Regions from separate parts of the Homo sapiens genome. Here region 1 is linked to region 2. Evidence: fine-mapped expression QTL. A gene starts in region 2. The other region holds a variant in brackets. All regions are shown on one strand. Distances are from middle to middle. Region 1 overlaps LOC124907869 (a long non-coding RNA gene). Region 2 holds the start of SLC20A1 (solute carrier family 20 member 1).

What was found. PIP is the estimated chance that this variant, and not a neighbour inherited with it, causes the effect. A credible set is the group of variants that fine-mapping cannot tell apart.
Region 1: its variant is the best candidate, but not a certain one, in a credible set for the expression of SLC20A1 in naive CD4 T cells (Schmiedel 2018, PIP 0.81).

The regions. Positions count from the first base shown.
Region 1 is chr2:112,605,675-112,611,053 of GRCh38, reverse strand. All of the region lies in intron 1 of LOC124907869 (a long non-coding RNA gene), which reads right to left. Among named protein-coding and RNA genes, the nearest start is that of CHCHD5, 24 kb to the right of the region's middle. The variant A/G (reference allele first, on the strand shown) is at 2,664.
Region 2 is chr2:112,643,401-112,648,779 of GRCh38, reverse strand. It overlaps SLC20A1 (solute carrier family 20 member 1), which reads right to left and starts at 2,841. Exons shown (of 11, transcript NM_005415.5): 1 at 2,651-2,841; 2 at 1,618-2,217; 3 at 1,316-1,456; 4 at 1,042-1,127. The coding sequence starts at 1,951. It overlaps SLC20A1-DT (SLC20A1 divergent transcript), which reads left to right and starts at 4,600. Exons shown (of 5, transcript NR_033871.1): 1 at 4,600-4,681; 2 at 4,765-4,821. RefSeq lists silencers at 1,594-1,888, 2,350-3,179.

The DNA.
Region 1 (5,379 bases), 38 kb after region 2:
TGGCTTCATCCCTGGGATGCAACCCTGGTTCAACATACGCAAATCAATAAACGTAATCCATCATATAAACAGAACCAAAGACAAAAGACACATGATTATCTCAATAGATGCAGAAAAGGCCTTTGATAAAATTCAACACCCCTTCATGCTAAAAACTCTAATAAACTAGGTATCGGTGGAACATATCTCAAAATAATAAGAGCTATTTATAACAAGCCCACAGCAAATATCATACTGAATGGGCAAAAACTGAAAGCATTCCTTTGAAAACCGGCACAAGACAAGGATGCCATCTCTCACCACTCCTATTCAACATAATATTGGAAGTTCTGGCCAGGGCAATCAGGCAAGAGAAAGCAATAAATGGTATTCAAATAAGAAGAGAGGAAGTCAAATTGTCTCTCTTTGCAGATGACATGATTGTAAATTTAGAAAACCCCATTGTCTCAGCCCAAAACCTCCTTAAGCTGATAAGCAACTTCAGCAAAGTCTCAGGATACAAAATCAATGTGCAAAAATCACAAGCATTCCTATAAACCAATAACAGACAAACAGAAAGCCAAATAATGAGTGAACTCCCATTCACAATTGCTACTAAGAGAATAAAATACCTAGGAATCCAACCTACAAGGGATGTGAAGGACCTCCTCAAGGAGAACTACAAACCACTGCTCAAGGAAATAAGAGAGGACAAAAACAAATGGGAAAACATTCCATGCTCATGGATGGGAAGAATCAATATCGTGAAAATGGCCATACTTCCCAAAGTAATTTATAGATTCAATGCTATCCCCATCAAGCTACCACAGACTTTCTTCACAGAATTGGAAAAAACTACTTTAAACTTCATATAGAACCAAAAAAGAGCCTGCATAGCCAAGACAATCCTGGGCAAGAAGAACAAAACTGGAAGCATCATGCTACCTGACTTCAAACTATACTACAAGGCTACAGTAACCAAAACAGCATGGTACTGGTACCAAAACAGAGATATAGACCAATGGAACAGAACAGAGGCCTCAGAAATAACACCACACAGCTACAACCATCTGATCTTTGACAAACCTGACACACACAAGCAATAGGAAAAAGATTCCCTATTTAATAAATGGTGTTGGGAGAACTGGCTAGCCATATGCAGAAAACTGAAACTGGACCTCTTCCTTACACCTTTTACAAAAATCAATTCAAGATGGATCAAAGACTTAAATGTAAGACCTAGGACCATAAAAATCCTAGAAGAAAACCTGAGCAATACCATTCAGGACATAGGCATGGGCAAAGACTTCATGCCTAAAACACCAAAAGCAATGGCAACAAAAGGCAAAATTGACAAATGTGATCTAATTAAACCAAAGAGCTTCTGCACAGCAAAAGAAACTACCATCAGAGTGAACAGGCAACCTACAGAATGGGAGAAAAATTTTGCAATCTATCTATCTGACAAAGGGCTAATATCCAGAATCTACAAAAAACTTAAACAAATTTACAAGAAAAAAGCAAACAACCCCATCAAAAAATGGGCAAAGGGTATGAACAGACACTTCTAAAAAGAAGACATTTATGCAGCCAACAGACATGAAAAAATGCTCATCGTCACTGGTCATTAGAGAAATGCAAATCAAAACCACAATGAGATACCATCTCATGCCAGTTAGAATGGCGATCATTAAAAAGTCAGGAAACAGGCCGGGCACGGTGGCTCAAGCCTGTAATCCCAGCACTTTGGGAGGCCGAGGTGGGTGGATCACGAGGTCAGGAGATCCAGACCATCCTGGCTAACACAGTGAAACCCTGTCTCTACTAAAAATACAAAAAAATTAGCCAGGCGTGGTGGCAGGTGCCTGTAGTCCCAGCTACTCGGGAGGCTGAGGCAGGAGAATGGCGTGAACCCAGGAGGCAGAGCTTGCAAAGAGTTGAGATCGTGCCACTGCACTCCAGCCTGGGAAAGATGGCGAGACTCTGTCTCAATAAAAAAATAAATAAATAAATAAAAAGTCAGGAAACAACAGATGCTGGAGAGGTTGTGGAAAAATAATGCTTTTACACTGTTGGTGGGAGTGTAAATTAGTTCAACCATTGTGGAAGACAGTGTGGCGATTCCTCAAAGATCTAGAACTGGAAATATCATTTGACCCAGCAATCCCATTACTGGGCTTATACCCAAAGGATTATAAATCATTCTATGATAAAGACACATGCACACGTATGTTTATTGTGGCACTATTCACAATAGCAAAGACTTGGAACCAACCCAAATGTCCATCAATGATAGACTGGATTAAGAAAATGTGGCACATATACACCATGGAATACTATGCAGCCATAAAAAAGGATGAGTTCATGTCCTTTGCAGGGACATGGATCAAGCTGGAAACCATCATTCTCAGCAAACTATCACAAGGTCAGAAAACCAAACACCACATGTTCTCACTCATAAGTGGAAGTTGAACAATGAGAATATATGGACACAGGGAGGGGAACATCACACACCGGGGCCTGTCAGGGGGTCGGGGGCTAGAGGAGGGATAACATTAGGAGAAATACCTAATGTAGGTGACGGGTTGATGGGTGCAGCAAACCACCAGGGCACGTGTATACCTATGTAACAAAACTGCACGATGTACACATGTTTGCCAGAACTTAAAGTATAATTAAAAAAA[A/G]AAAAAAGAAAAGAAAAGAAAACTCAGGGATCAGGGTTTTTAAGAATAATTTGGTGGGTAGGGGTCCAGTGAGCCAGGAGCACCGATTGGTTGGCTTGAGGATGAACTCATAGGCAGTCGAAGCTATCCTCTTATGCTGAGTCAGTTCCTGGGTGAGTGCCACAGAACTGGTTGGCAGGTCCAGGTGAGGCCAACCACTTGTCAGAAATGGAAAAACCTGAAAAGACATCTCAAAAGGCCAATCTCAGGTTCACAATGGTGATGTTATCTTCAAGAGTAATCAGGGAAGTTGCAAATCTCATGACCTTCCACGTAACAGCTGGTAATATTTAGAGTTCCAGCCCCTCTCATCCTAACTTGGTGGCTGGTGGCCTTTCATTCGTTTTACAAGAACAGATTTGCTTTTGGGAAGGGCTGTTATTTAAACTATAAACTAAATTCCTTCCCAAGGCTAGTTCGGCCTATGCCCAGGAATGGATAAGGACAGTTTAGAGGTTAGAAGCAAGATGGAGTCAGTTAGGTCTGATCTATTTCACTGTCATAATTCCCCATAATTTTGGCAAAGGCGGTTTCAAGATGGGCAGTCTTCTTCAGAACTCTCCCGAGCCAGTTTATCACCTGCTTCCCTGGTTCTGGTAAGCATGAGACTCCATGCCTTGCCCTCCTCTGAGTATAGCTGCAGACTAGAAAACACTTGGCTGGGCCAGGCACGGTGGCTCATGCCTGTAATCCCAGCACTTTGGGAGGCTAAGGTAGGCAGATCACTAGGGGTCAGGAGTTTGAGACTAGCCTGGCCAACATGGGGAAAACTCCGTCTTTACTAAAAATACAAAAAAAAAAAAAAAAAAAAAAAAAGAAGCTGGGCATGGTGGCGCATGCCTGTAATCACAGCTACTCAGGAGGCCGAGGCAGTGAGATGAGATCACACCACCGCACTCCAGCCTGGGCAACAGAGCAAGACTCTGTCAAAAGAAAGAGGAAGGGAAGGGAAGGCAAGAGAAGGCAAAGGGAGGGGAGGGGAGGCAAGGGGAGGAGAGGTTAGGTGAGGGGAGGCGAGGCGAGGGGAGGGGAGGGAGAAGAAGGGAAGGGGAGGCCAGGGAAGGGGAGGCAAGGGGAGGGGAGGGGAGGGAGAAGGAGGAAAGGGAAGGGAAGGGAAGGGAAAGGAAGGGAAGGGAAGGGAGGGGAGGGGAGAGAAGGGGAGGGGAGGCGAGGGGAGGGAAAGAAAGGAGGGAGGGAGGGGAGGAAGGAAGGCAGGCTTGACTGTAGCTTAGGAAGGAAGGAAGGCAGGCAGGCAGGCTTGGCTGTAGCTTAGGAAGGAAGGGGAAAATGCTTGTCTGTAGCTTAGAATTAGCACCCACACTCGACGGGAGGCGATGATACAAGGCATGTATATGAGGGAGTGGGAATTTGGGGACCACCTAGAATTATGCCTTCCCATCCCTGAGAGCATGTGCATAGCTACCAGCTATAAAGCTGCTTGGCTGCAGTGTGGTATGGGCTTCACCTGGCACTCATGTTGCTGCCATTTGGCCCCTGTTGTTTTGGTGCCGCCCTGTGCAAGGGTCACAGGGACCTGGCACCTCTGTCTACTTGCGCTTTCACCATCTGTATGAGTAATATAAACTGCCTGATCTAAAAAATGGCTCCTTGTTGCTTTCCTGACCATGCATGTCAGCCAGGCCTTGCCTTGTGCTTGATACATAGCAGCTGTGGCTCCCCCAGGCTGCTGCTTAGGGGCTGCTGCTTAGGGGCTGCTGCTTGGCCATCTGACAGGAAGATACTCGGTCTACTAAGGGAGGAAAGAATGATACATGAAGGAACCACAGGACGTGGCCAAATGTCCAGTAGGTGCTGGGGAGACACACGGGGCTGGCTCTCCTCATGCTGCATCAAGTGGGACAAAGTTGGATAAAGGGAAGTTTATTGATGCGAGAGTGCTGCTGTGGGGTATGGGATTCACACCCCAGCAAGGAGGTGAAGATAGTACTAACACTCCACTCAATGGTCTCATGGAAGCCTGGAAAAAGCAATATCCCCCAGGAAAGCAGAACTGCCAGAAATGCCGTGCAATAGTGGATACAGGAATGAGGTGGCTCAGAGAAGCAGGCATGCTGGAGTGGATATGCTACTGAGGAAAGAAAACCCACCAGGTCACCGCAGTCCACAGGGGAGCCGTGGGCACCTTCTGTTTATCCAAACGAGGAGGAATGTGCTGTTCAATGGGGCCACCAGCATCAGCAAGAAGCTTGGTGGTGACTGTGGGCTGATCGTGGGAGATGATGTTACAGAGCTATGTTCCCAATACTAATGAGGATGAGTCCTGAAATAATAGAGGCCAGGTGACAACACTTCACTGCCAGAAGAATGCTGGGTGAGATTGCTGTAATACATGGCAAGAACAGATGTAATGTATGACAGGCAGGGGAGTCTGTTCCCATAGAGAATTATAGAGATGGGCCAGGCGCTGTGGCTTACGCCTGTAATCCCAGCACTTTGGGAGGCCTAGGTGGGTGGATCACCTGAGGTCAGGAGTTCAAGACCAGCCTGGCCAACATGGTGAAACACCCCAGTCTCCACTAAAAATACAAAAAATTAGCCAGGCGTGGTGGTGGGTGCCTATAATCCCTACTACTCAGGAGGCTGAGGCAGGAGAATCGCTTGAACCCAGGAGGCAGAGGTTGCAATGAGCCGAGATGGTGCTATTGCACTCTAGCCT
Region 2 (5,379 bases):
CATAAATATCAATGAACTGTTTACTCTCATATTATACCAGGCTAAAGATATTTCAAGTTTTCAAAGTGTTAAACTGCTATATTCTGCCAGATTCTGGCTATGGAAAACAGTGATTAGTGAATCACTTTACTAGTCATAGAATTTCTACAGAGAAGAGACAAATCTTTCCCTAGAGAAGCTTACAACTAGACCAGACAAGTGGGTCTGAATACATTCTTACCTGCTGGGATTTATGCTATCTCCCTCAGATTTCTACAGTTTAGGAACACTTTTAAGAACTTACAATGGATTGTTAAGAGCCATTCACCTTAGAAAAAGGACAACTTTGTTTCCTGAGAAAAATGCATTTATCCTCACTGTAACTCAGTCCTATGCCAACATAATCCCTTGTCAACATTTATTTTGCAGCCAGCAAGACTTCTTGATAAAAGAAATGCAAACTGGGTCACTTAAAAGGGATTTTCAAATGGACAGGAAATTAAATGGCTGCCTGAAGTTTTTTTGGGGGGCGGGCCAAAAACTACCTTTAACTGGTTCTTTTCAACTATTCTGAGAAATTGGAGTCAAGTCACTATGGGAGGCAGAGTCCTCATCTAGAAGCTTATAAACTGGTTATGATAATCAGCACGGCAGAGACCCATTTAACTGGCAGCTTAGTTAAAAAAGCCACAGGGGACACTGTCTTGAACTCCAAGTTTACGTATTATATTAGCCTGAATATAACAGTGGTTTAAACAAATAATGTGTATACAGCTACACAAAACCACGCAAAATAAATTTCCTTATTTTTTTGCTCCCAGTTTCTCCTACTTCTTGGCACATCATAGTATTCAATTTTTCCTTCCTGACTGCCCTCTTGAGTATTAAAAACTCGCTTTCAGAGAACTCCACAACATACAAGAAATGCACAGAACAAAGAGCTTTTTAAAATTTTCCAAGGCCGCATACCTATACACCAATCACATCTGCAAAAGTACCACTGGGTTTGAAATCGATTGGGTGTGCTCCATGAAAGGTCTTCATACGGGGGAGAAAGGTTACCTTATGGAGGATGAATGCACGAACCAGGAAGAATAAAATTCCAGACATAATTCCAGAAAGCAGTGGGGACACGAACCAAGACATCACTGGAATAGAACACATTAAGAAAAAATATCAAATAATGAAAATCAGAAACCAAAAACCACTTTAAATGTTTAAGAGTTCAAAATTCTTGGGTCTGTCCCTCGACGTTAGAACACATCCTCCCATACCTAATGCCATGGTAACATATGACGAAAACGAAAATTAAGAAGCCGTTTGGAATTAAACATACCAATTTTTATCAGTTCAGACCACTTGACACCCTCCTGCCCCTTTGCCACGAGGGAGAAACCAATAGTTGCACCAACAATACAATGGGTTCCAGAAATAGGGAGCTTCAAAAACGAAGCCACGAGTTGCCACACAGCAGAACCTGAAACATAGTAAAGTTTTATTAAGTAAATATCAAAATTCCATTATGTAAGTGGCACATTCAGAAAGGTTAATCGGAAAGGTTATGCACAAAAATGGAACCACCCATGATACAAATTTGCTCACCCACCACGAAGAGGACAAAACATAAAAAGAACTTACCAAACATAGCACTGACTGAGCCGGCCATCAGCAGCCCTTGAGTCGAGTTGTACATCTCCACGTCAATCAAGCCCTTCCGGATGGTTTCGCTCACTTTGGCCCCCAGTAAGACAGAGCCCACTGTTTCAAAGATGCTAGCTAGGATGCAGGCTTGCTTCAGGGTCACTACACCTGAGCCCACAGCTGTACCAAAAGAATTTGCTACATCATTGGCTCCCACGGAGAATGCCAAGACAAATGCAATAATGAAGCCCAGGATGAGCATCCATAGGTAGTCCACCAAAGGACCAGAAGCGGCGGTAGCAGCTGTAGTACTGGTAATCAGCGTTGCCATTCTCTGGAGTAGTGGTTGTTTAGTAAGAGAACTACTGAGCGCCTTTCAAGATGTGTAAACAGAATATGAGGTATCAAAAATGCTATAATAAATAATATATATTATATAAAATTAAATACTGTAAACTACGGCACAGAAACCGAGCTGGGGAGTTACTGCTATACGCTGCGTATGGGCATCTGTTGTCTGGGGTTTCTTTGGCTCAGGAGGGCTAAAAGCACGGAGCAGAATTCCATGGCGGAGAAGAGAAAGGACGCAAGTTCATCCTGCGGGGGAGGGGGGAAATAACAATAGCTGCGTGCCCCTGGGGGGCCAGTGGGGCACCCCGCTCTACCCACGCGCCCGGGGTCCCGCAATAGCCTCTGCCGGCTACTCCAGACCCCCATCCCCAGTAGGACGCGCGAGAAGGAGAGGCACGTGGCTCCGGGTCCTCCGCGGCCCGCGCGCGCCCAGCCCAGCCCCTGCGCTGCCAGCCCGCGCGCGCCCTCCGCGCGAAAATCGGAAAAGGGCCGTTCCCGCGCGCGCCGCCCGGGGACCGCCAAAAAGGCCCGCGGGCGGGCAGACGGGCGGAGTGGAGGCGGCCAGCGGCGAAGAGAGAAGCCAGCCGCGCCGCCCACGGCGTCCGCCTCCAGCGCCACGGCGTCCGCGCCCGGCCCCGGGGAGAAGAAAGAGCCTTTACGAGGCGGCGCCACTACTCACCAGGGAAAAGGGAGGGCGGAGCGGGAGACGAGGAGATCGAGGCGACAGCGGCTGGAGCCACGGGCACACGGCCCGGGTCGGCGGCACCGGGGACAGCTCAGCGGGACTCACGACCTTCCCAGGAAGCAGCCGCGGGGGTTTCAGCGGCCGAGAAGAAGAACCACGCAGAGAGCGCCGGCAGCCATCACTCCAGCGGAGCACCCCGCCGGCCCCTACTTATAGCCCGCGCAGCGACCCGCGTGACCCCGCCGCGCCTCGCGCCGGCCCCGAAGCCCCGCCCCCGGCATGACGCAGCCCTCCTCGGCCCGGCGTGCCCAGCCGGGTGAGCCCGACGGTGGCGCTCATTGGCCCGGCCCGCTTCGGCGGCCACGCCCCCAGCGGGGAGCCGGTCCACGTGGGGCGGGACAGCCCCCTCCCTGCGGCCTCGCCCTGGAGTCTCGGCACCGTCTGGCCCCGCCGGCTGATTACAGCCAGAGATCGAGGGGGACCTCGCTGTCCCCCTAGAGGCCGTCATGCGGGGTTACAGAGGCTGCGACCAAAGTCATTCCTAGCTCCTCTCTCGGGGCTCCGGAAAGCCGTCCGCGCCTCCAGCCGCACTTTCAGCGCACGCAGGACCTGCCGCGCCCGGTGGCCACACCCGTCCCTCTGCCGGGTGACGCTGCGGGAGATCTTGCGCCCTGGGGCTCCGGATCCAGTTCTGGCACGTTGTTGCACCTGTGACTTGTCCTTGGCCTGGCACTGTCCCTCGCCTGGGGGAAGCGGGGGGGTGGGGGGGGGATGCTCACGTGGTCGCTTTGCTCCCGCAGTCATGCACTTGGGTGAAAACAGACTGAAGAGTCACGGGAACCAGCTTGTCTCCCCAGTTATGGCGCAGAGCTGCAAGGATGGCTGTGGGTCATTAATTTCTCCGTGGCTGACCTGTGTTTGTAACGCCGCAGCTGTTGCGAGGGGGAAGGACACTGCTTCGGATTCAAATTCTGACTCCTTGCTGCAGTGTGTCACCTTGAGCCAGTCCCAGATCTCTGCGTTCTCACAATTGTAAAATGTTAACAGAGGCTGCCTACCTTGTGGCTGGAATTAAATGAATTAACGTGTGTGAATGTGACTAGAATTCAGTACATGTTCAGGAAAAGCTGATTTCCGCTTTGCTGTTACCGTGAATATTACTGTTTTAGGGTGTAGAAAAGGGTGGAAGGGGATGTTATTGCATCCTGGAAGCTTATCCTTTTGAGGTAAAGATTGATTTCTGGTCCCCTGCGTGGTATATAGTGTAGTTTTGACATTATTTAGATGTGTTATGCACATTTGGGTGTTGATTATATGGCTTACGATCAAGACTAACCAGTCATGCCGTGGGAGATTAAGGTCGTGGTCTCTTGTCAGGATTGTAGTGAGATTTAAAAATTCCAGCCAGAAATACCAGGCTTAGAATGCTCTGAAGCCCTCCCCACATTTTTGCCATCTCTAGCAGGAGGGCACTGCATAGCAGAAACAAAGACGTTGTAAATTGTTGCTGCCTGAGTCATTTATAGAGGCTTAAACAACCTGAATGTCCTCTGACCTACCTGTAACATTTGATGGAGTTGTATGAGTAACTTACAAAGCTGTAGGTCCCAAGGTCGGTCTGAAAAAGAAAGTTCATATCCGGGAGCACTGACCCCGTAGTGTAATCCTGGCACCTTAAAACGTACTGCTCCCTCCACCTTCACTTCAAGGTTATGAAAACATTGAGTAAAAGGGATGATCTGTTCAAAGTCCTTAGTGTTCTGCCAATTTAAAACAGTAATTTTCAAAGCAGTTATTTGCAAGGAAATTGCCTAGAACTTCTCCCAGTGTGCGGTTGTTTTGTGTGTTTGTGTGTGTGTTTTGTTTGTTTGTTTTCAGTCTGTCCACAGGCGTACTTTTATAGGTCTGTGATAGTAGGTAGCTCTTCAAGTTGGCAAACACCTGCTGGACAACCCCTGAGAGATTCATCTGAGTGAGAGAGCACTCTCCAGCCCCATCGGAGTGGGTTTGCAGGGAAATCATAAGGTAGAGATTCAAAGGAATTCCCTTGCGTTGCAAATGAAAACTGTATCTTCAGACTCTGATATAGTGTAATCCTTCCTTTTTAGGAAGAAATCCTTATCTTTCCAACACTGAGATGCTTCTGCCGAAGAGTAGAATGGGAGGTGAGGAATTGGGGTGGGCCCTCACTGCTTTGCCTCCGGATCAGTAGGGTACAGCCCTTGGAGACCAGGATCTTCCTTGGCTGGGACACCTTCGTCCTCCCCTAAGGGAGGAGAGGTAGGGATCTGCCTGTGGAAAGAAGTTACAGTGCCTTTTAAATAGAAATAGGAGGTAGGAGGACCGTCAGTTGTCAGTTCGTGCACAAATGGCATTGTTTCTGGCCTTATCTCTGAATGCTGAGGAAACAGGTCAGAGATCCTAAAGAGAATCTAATCTCTTAGAATCCAGGCATTGGCACAAACCCCCTCTAGCATCTTAGGGAGGTGGTTTGGTGTAGTGGTTAAACACATAGACTGTAAGACCAAACCACCTGCTCTGTCACTCACTAGTCCTGTGACCATAGGCAAATAAATTATCTGCCTCAGTTTCCTGATCTGTAAAGGGGTGAGATTGAGACTTCTAACTCACAGTGCTGTTGTGAGGACCAAATGAATGAATATATGTAAAGCCCTTGTAAAAGGGCTCTTATTCTCTTTGTTCAATAACTAGCTGAAGGCCTG